2 linked regions of the Homo sapiens genome follow. The protein of the gene in region 2 interacts with the protein of the main gene of each other region in a biochemical or structural test. Each region holds a gene or a part of one and is shown on either strand. Other genes may lie near its edges.

The links.
Region 1: the proteins of RPS15A (region 2) and SLX9 are reported together in a solved structure, tested with the Homo sapiens proteins (one study listed by BioGRID).

What each region holds. Positions count from the first base shown.
Region 1 is NC_000021.9:44,956,860-44,960,669, reverse strand, and holds part of SLX9 (ribosome biogenesis protein SLX9 homolog), read right to left. Parts: intron 1,973-3,810; exon of another isoform or gene 1,737-1,972; intron 571-1,736; coding exon 502-570; intron 1-501. UniProt on the Homo sapiens protein: May be involved in ribosome biogenesis.
Region 2 is NC_000016.10:18,780,485-18,784,064, forward strand, and holds the end of RPS15A (small ribosomal subunit protein uS8), read right to left. Parts: intron 2,619-3,580; coding exon 2,525-2,618; 3' UTR 811-2,524; downstream 1-810.

The sequences.
Region 1 (3,810 bases), on a different chromosome or scaffold from region 2:
TGCCCACACCCACGCCGCTATGCGCAGACACTGTTTTCACCGCGGGCAAGGCCTGGAAGGATTTCACATACCACTGCAGGCACTTCTGAACCATAAAAACTCCACGAGCACAGGTTACTTCCACAATAAAAAATTTCACGGTGGGGAACAAAAATAGGTAATTTTTACAAACAAGGAGCCGAGAGCAGCAGCTTCCCAAGGCCGTCCTCCAAAGGGAGGCAGCCCAGCTCTGCAGGTGCCCACACGGACGGGGTGGCAGTGCCATCCACAACAGGCCAGACCAGCTTGGCCATGCTGCCAAGTCTTCATGGCCAACCTCTCTGTGCCTCCACTGTCCTTCGGCCCCCACAGCAGCCTCTGAAGTGTCTTGGGTGATCCCCTTGGGCACTCCTCGGGGAGTGTGGCTGATGTAGAAGGCCAGATGTGAGGCTGTAGGAATAGGAGGGCCCACGGGATGGGACTTGGGCCGGCAGCTGCCTCAAGACGCAGGCATGGACTTACTCTGCAACCATTGCTCACGCCTCAGCTTCATTTTCTCCTTCTTGGGCAAAACGGTCTTGGCCTCTGCACCTGAGGAAAGAGAACACGGGAGTGAGCAAAACGTGTCCAGGTGGCACTCCCATGACCTGAGAATGGGCTGGGGCGGGTCCTGACTGCAGAGCTGCCACAGTCACTGCAACTGGTCTGGCCTGTGCCAGCCTCTCAGACTCCCGGCTCTGGACAGCACCAGGGGCACCTGCAGCATGCCTCGGCCCGGCCTCAGGAGGCTCTCTCAGCAGCGTCCCCCCGCAGTGATGGCCTGGCCACTCACCCCAGCCTGCCCCGGAAAGCAGGTGTCCCAACAAGGAGGCCTCCTCCCCACTCATGCCCCGAATGACTGTCAGGGCAGTCATTGCAGTGAAGCCATGCAGGAATGCCCGACGGCTCATGAAGGGGGCCACGAACAGGACAGAGGCCCTTAGGGGGACATCCCCAAGATCCTGTGTGGTCACGTCAGGCCCAGCGACGTACGTGCTCCCTGCCCCCTGCCAGGCCCGACAATGTGCTCGGTGACCAGAGGCTTCATCCCTGGACCCCACAAAGCGGCCCTCTCAGGGAGCCTCCAAAAGTGAACTCCACAGGTGCCCCTGTGCTTGGTCCACGCGGAGCCCAGCCACCTGCCCGGTGGGCGGGGAAAGGAGGCTCATTTGCTGGGGGGACAGGGGCAGGGGTGGGATGAGCCTGCAGGGCCGTGCAGGTGGGGACAGGTGGAGAGGGCACTGGGTGCTGCGTCTCTGACTCCAGTTTGCTCTGAAACAGAGTGGACTCAAGGGCACCCCCATTTCCTCGGCCTTAACTGATTTCCCGAGACGGTTCAGCCTCGGCTGCATTCTCCCCAGAACACATCTCCCAGTATCTCTTTTAATTCATGCAGACCTTCCTGGCTTGTCCAACAAATCCACCATGTCTAATGAAAAACAAAGCAGAAGCAAGCCCTGCCTGGAGAAAGGCAGTCGCTGCGCTCTGCATTTCAGACTTCACTTCAGGAGCCGGTGTGAAACCTCCAAGGCCCAGGGCTCCCGCAGGATTTAATCCCCTCCCACAGCTTCCTGGTGTGCCTGGGTTGACCTACTTTCCTCCATAGCATCCCAACCTCTCCCTCCCGACCACAAAGGGGAGGGGCTGATTTTGCAGCTTTTCTGTAGTTTTGAAATTGTTTCAAAAGAAAAATGAATCTAAGACCAGTGGAAACTGACCCGAACAGTGACCTGTGTTGTGTTGGAATGAAGAAAACGAGGCCTGGGCGCAGGCCAGGTCAGGAACACAGCACAGTGATCCTTCCCGGCTCTGGCCCCAGGGAGCTCCCCAGCCCCATTGCCATGGCACCAGGACAACAGGAACCAAACACGCTGCTCCTGCAGGAGGAGAGGGCTTGGAATGCTGCAGCTGGAGCAGAGGCCGCCTGGAACTGCTGGCGGCGGCCCCACGACCCCCAGCTCCCGCCGCTTTCCGGGCCCAAGGCGCCCTTGCTGAAGTGCTCCGGCACAGGTTCACGCCTGCTCCCCCTTCTAGCCTCTGGATGGGCTGACGGGTGTTCACTGAGATCCAGTCGGTGCCGCGGGCTACGGAGGGGGCTCGCCCTGTGGGTCCTGATTCCCTCTCCCCCGCAGGCCCAAGGCCACATGGACAGGGCAGGTGGGCGCACCCCACCCTGTGGTGGGGACAGTGTGAAGTCCGCTCGAGCTGCTCCGGTTTCTAAACTTACCTACGACAAGGCCAGCACACCACAGCTCTCGCCGGTGCTGCGGAAGCACAGGAGCGTCCCGTGGGTGCAGCAGAAATGCCAGCTTGGAGGAGGGCCGGGCTGGGAGTGCAGATGCTGGGCCTCAAGCAAGGGTGTCGGGAGCTGCTACTGTCCTGGGCCTCGCCCCAAACCCAGATCCCAGCAGCACCAGCACTACAGCCCCAGTGGCTATGGGGAGGGGAAGGTCACCAAACACGTCTGATTAGTGACAAAGTGACGGCAGCAGGGGCCACACCTGAGGCAGGTCATCCGCCGAGCCCGAGCTCCTCACACAGGGCCTGAAGTCCGAGTGGGCACCAGGAATACCAAGCCAGAGCTGACAGTAAAAACGACTTCATACAATCGCCGGCCAGCCGAGCTGAGGCTACAGAAGGGTGCACACTCAGAAGGGCAGAGGCGGCTGCGACCTCGGCTTCCCGCTCTAGGCAGACAGGCTTCTTCCTCTGTGCCCTGTCTGCTTCACATCCTAGGCCACCTGCTGCACGGGCGGCTCACACACTGCCACTCCTTCTGGCCCGCTCAGTCCACAGCTCAAAGGTGTCAGGAGACGGGCAAGTCCCCATTAAACTGAACCTCACAGAACCCCAGCCAGTGGCTGAGGCAAGGCTAGACGAGGTGCTCATACCCTCATTCCCCACAAAACCGAGACAGGACCCCCCCAAGACAGAGCCCAGGCCTCCCTGTGGGGGAACATGCTGCAGGTGCCATCCACTCCCCCTCACACTCGGTGGAACCCTCTGGGGCCACCTGTTGCTACTGGCAGTGAACAAGCCCAAAGGGTGAAAGACAAGGCCGCAGGGCATGAGGTGGCTCCTGCGATCTGGGTCCTGGGACCCGGTGGTATCCAGGGTGCTCCTGGCTGCCACAGCGCCTGTATCTGAGCTGGACTGCAAGGCACAGGGCAGATGGATGGTGGAGATGAAGAGGAGGAGGATGAGGAGAAGCCGTGCCCTTGCCTGAGTCTTCAGGAGCCCAGGATGCAGCTGCCACGGAGCGATCTGCATAGAGGCACCGGGCTCACGAGCAGCGTGTGGGGACTGACCGTGTGGGACAGCCCCTCTGGCCCAGTGGGAGGCACTCTGAGGAGGACTCAAGGGCCGTTCAAGGAACAGCCCCTCTAACCCTTGACTCTGGAAGACCCCGCCTCAGCCCTGCCCTTGGGGAGTGACTAGAAACCTGCCCTGAGCTGACTCATCACAGAGCTCTGGGGGTGGCTCTGGTCCCTGGAACGCCGGCCGGCCCGGCAAAAACCTGCAGCATGAGCTGAATGGCCCCGCACAGAGAGAGGGATGGGTGCACGCAGGTACAGGCTGCCTAAAAACCCTGACAAGAAAAGGGAAGGTGAGACGCTGCCGCGCAGGAGCCAGGGCCCGTGCTCTGGAGCTGCAATTCCAGGTACACTGGGCAAGGCAACCGCCTCGCCAGAACCACAGCCTTCCCAGCTGCCACGGTGCTGCCTGGGCTCTTGCGCTCTAACAAAGGGGCCCCGGGAACAGACGCGGTAAACCAGCCTCAGTGGAGGAAGC
Region 2 (3,580 bases):
TGCTTTCTCCCTGGCCAGGAGCTCAAAGTGAACTTCCTCGCCTGGGGTGAAGTCATCCTCTCAGACGTTGGTCCAGACCTAGCTTCAAACTCTGCCTTGCCCAGAGACCTGTGTGCTCTTTCACCTGGCACTCCTGACCCTGAGGTGAGACAATAGCCTCTAAGTGAGGACACGTGGCAGGCACGAGTATAGATGTGTTGCTGAATGTAGGGGTCCTTGGCAGTGGTTCCCTGGTCTTTTGAATGACACATTTCTTTCAGCCTCTGGTCAGAGGCTCCACGGGGTCTCTCCATGAAAATGCAGGGGTGTTAAGTTTTGCATGTCTTTTTGGACAGTGCATCATATCCCTGACACCTGCAGCTCCGAGGCTGAGCAGCGGATAGGTGCTGGGTCCCTTTTACTATGAGCCAAAACCACCTAGGTAGGAATGGATGATCCAGATGCTATCACCCTCTCCCCACTCCGGGGTCTCTGCCTAGCAACAGCAGCAGTATGCTGGGAGGATGCTGGGATCACCCCACAGAAATACTTGTCTCTGAGCCAAGACATCCTGCCAGCACGAACCTAAATTGTCTTCAGACCCTCAAACCCTGGGGTCTAGTCCCACACCAAGCAGCCCTGGGTCATGTTATAAAGCCATTTACAGGATCTGAGGAACAAGGGGTAAGGTCATCCGCTTCCTTGCCAACATAAAAGAACACATGTTAAATCCATCAGCCACACCACTCCTTCTTCCCCTGTCACGTTTCTCCCACTCCTGACCACTTCAAAGGACATAGGATCCCCACAAAATGGTGACAACAAATGGAGCCATTTTCATATCCTATTTTATTTTTGAAGTCAGTGTCCAGAAAGAAACCGACGATTCACTCAATCAACATGTAAGCGACTGAGGCATCCCTACACACCAGGTTTGCAGGCTAGGGACCAGAGACACGATGGTTAAACAAGCCAGAGCCCTGTGATCCTAGGGCTTACAATGCTGGCATAAGAAAATCCTTCTGGACTCACTGTCCCCATGCTTGTGACTGTCATGTGCCAAGTGCGCTTTACACAATCTCATTTTTCCCTCAACTTGGGGATAGGTTTTGTATCATTCCCATTACAGATACGGATGCTGAGGTTACTGAGTGGAAGAGGAAACCTGAATTCTGCTGCTGGACCCCAAAACTCATGTTAATTACCCACAGCCTCCCAAACATCAGAGGCCCCAAACATGCCTCCCAACTCACTTCTCACAAATGGGGGCCGTTATCTGCCCCATCTCTAGGGCCGTTCTGTAACATTCTCAGCGACTTCCCATATCTTACAGAGGCAGGCCCTCCTTTCAGGAAGCTGATCCATGCCCCTTAATAAGGTAGCTTCTCTCCCCACTTGGCACACCACCTAGCTAGCCAAGGGCAAAGCAGAGACTAGGGGACAGGCCCCAGCACCGGGTCAGCACCCACTACCTCCTCAGTGATCAACAGTGCCCATTGCACTTCAATGGGCACCTGCAAGTGGCACCAGATTCTCTTGGAACAATTCTTAAGGCAGGGCGTGGTGGTCACACCTGTAATCCCAGCACTTTGGGAGACCAAGGCAGGCAGATCACTTGAGATCAGGAGTTCGAGACCAGCCTGGCCAACATGGTGAAACCCCACCTCTACTAAAAATACAAAAATCAGCCAGACATGGTGGCACACACCTGTAATCCCAGCTACTCAGGAGGCTGAGGCACGAGAACTACTTGAATCTGGGAAGCGGAGGTGCAGTGAGCCAAGATCATGCCACTGCACTCCAGCCTGTGTGACAGAGCGACTTTGTCTTAAAAAAAAAAAAAAAAAAAAAAAAATTCCTAGCAAGTATTTATTACAGCAGTCAGTGACAAAAGCCAGATCTAAAATCCTATCTACAGAATAATCCTAGCCAGGCAAAACAAATTCATCAAAAACTAATAGAAAATACTGAAATATAGGCCAGGTGTAATGGCTCGTGGCTGTAATCCCAGCACTTCGGGAGGCCGAGGTAGGCTGATCACTTGAGGCCCAGAACTCAAGACCAGCCTGGGCAACATGGCGAAACCCTGTCTCTACTAAAATATAAAAATTAGCCGGATGTGGCGACACACACTTGTAATCCCAGTTACTCAGGCGGCTGAGACAGGACAATCACTTGAACCCGGGAGGTGGAGGTTGCAGTGGGCCAAGATCGCGCCACTGCACTCCAGCCTGAGCAATAGAGTCAGACTCTGTCTCCAAAAAAGAAAAAAAAAAAAAAAAACTGAAATACAACTAAAATATTTAGTGTCAAATACCTGGTTTTGGCAGACAGCAGGGGTGACTGTTTCTTAGGCATACTGGTTTCATAAGAACTTTTTCCCTTGGCTGTATTAGTCACTTCAGGGAATCGCATTCACCGATAAACGAAGCAACTGCATGCTGCCGCAGAAGCTGTGGCTACACTGCTGTAAAGGCTCAAAACGACCAAGTGGAAGCACCAGAGTCCATGAGGCATTTTATTTGTAAATATATGTATTACATCCCTAGAAAAAGAATCCCAGGATTTTCCCTCCTGTGTGTTTTCGTCTTGCTTCTTCATGGTCCATGATGCCAGCTGAGGTTGTCAGTACAATGAAACTATGGAGTGGAAAAAGAAAGTGCTGGTAAGTTTAATAGTTCAACATAGTGCCTTCTAGTGCAGAAAAACATCAACACTCATCAGTGGTTAAGGGCGCTTTCCTGTGGGGCACATAGGAACTGACAGTGCCTACATGAGCTGGTGCCTCATGTAGCGTATGAGCCATGACTCCTGCAACCCAAAGAGCCAAATCCAGAGAGCCCAGCCACACAATCACACAGCCCTGACTTCTGCCTACACCATGAAACAAACTGCACTGAAAACAAAGGCTGGGAACTCCTTTAAATTTAAATGTCACTTTCTGCTCTCAGGTAAGGAGACTTGAAAGTATTCGTATAAACTTGAGTTTGAATTGTGTTTCTGCCATGTACTGTATAATAGCTAAACTATTATATGGAGACGTTCATTTGTACAATGAGTGGCTGCTTCATGAGTTACTGTGGGGATCACTGTAACAAGCATATAGTATGCAAATGTGCGGCATTAAAATCAGTATCATAATTACAAAGAGAAATGATTTTGGTGAGAATACCGTACCTGTAATACAGCAACCATGAAGTGAGAATACTTTCAACCAAGGCACCAGACGCATAATTTGGAGGGTATAAATTCTTAACCACAAAGATACACATTTACTGTGTCAGCTCATAAAGTGCTTTACCAAAATTAAATCAGGTGATAAACAGAGGAACTATTACCACTTTTACGGATGAAGAAATCAAGGCTGTGACTTGCCCAAGATCTCATGGCTTTAAAGCAGAAAAACAAGGGTTTGAACTCAGATAGGCTTTTAAGGACAAAGACTCCCAAACTAAGTTTTCCCAAAGGCCTAGGCTTAGAACTGATTCTGGCCCTCATCTGGGATCACAGGGAACTATCTGCAGTGAGCCAAAAGGGCAGACATGAAAGTGGACACGACCCCCCTTTTCTGCCAGTCTAAGCTCTCATGTGCCTCTCAGAA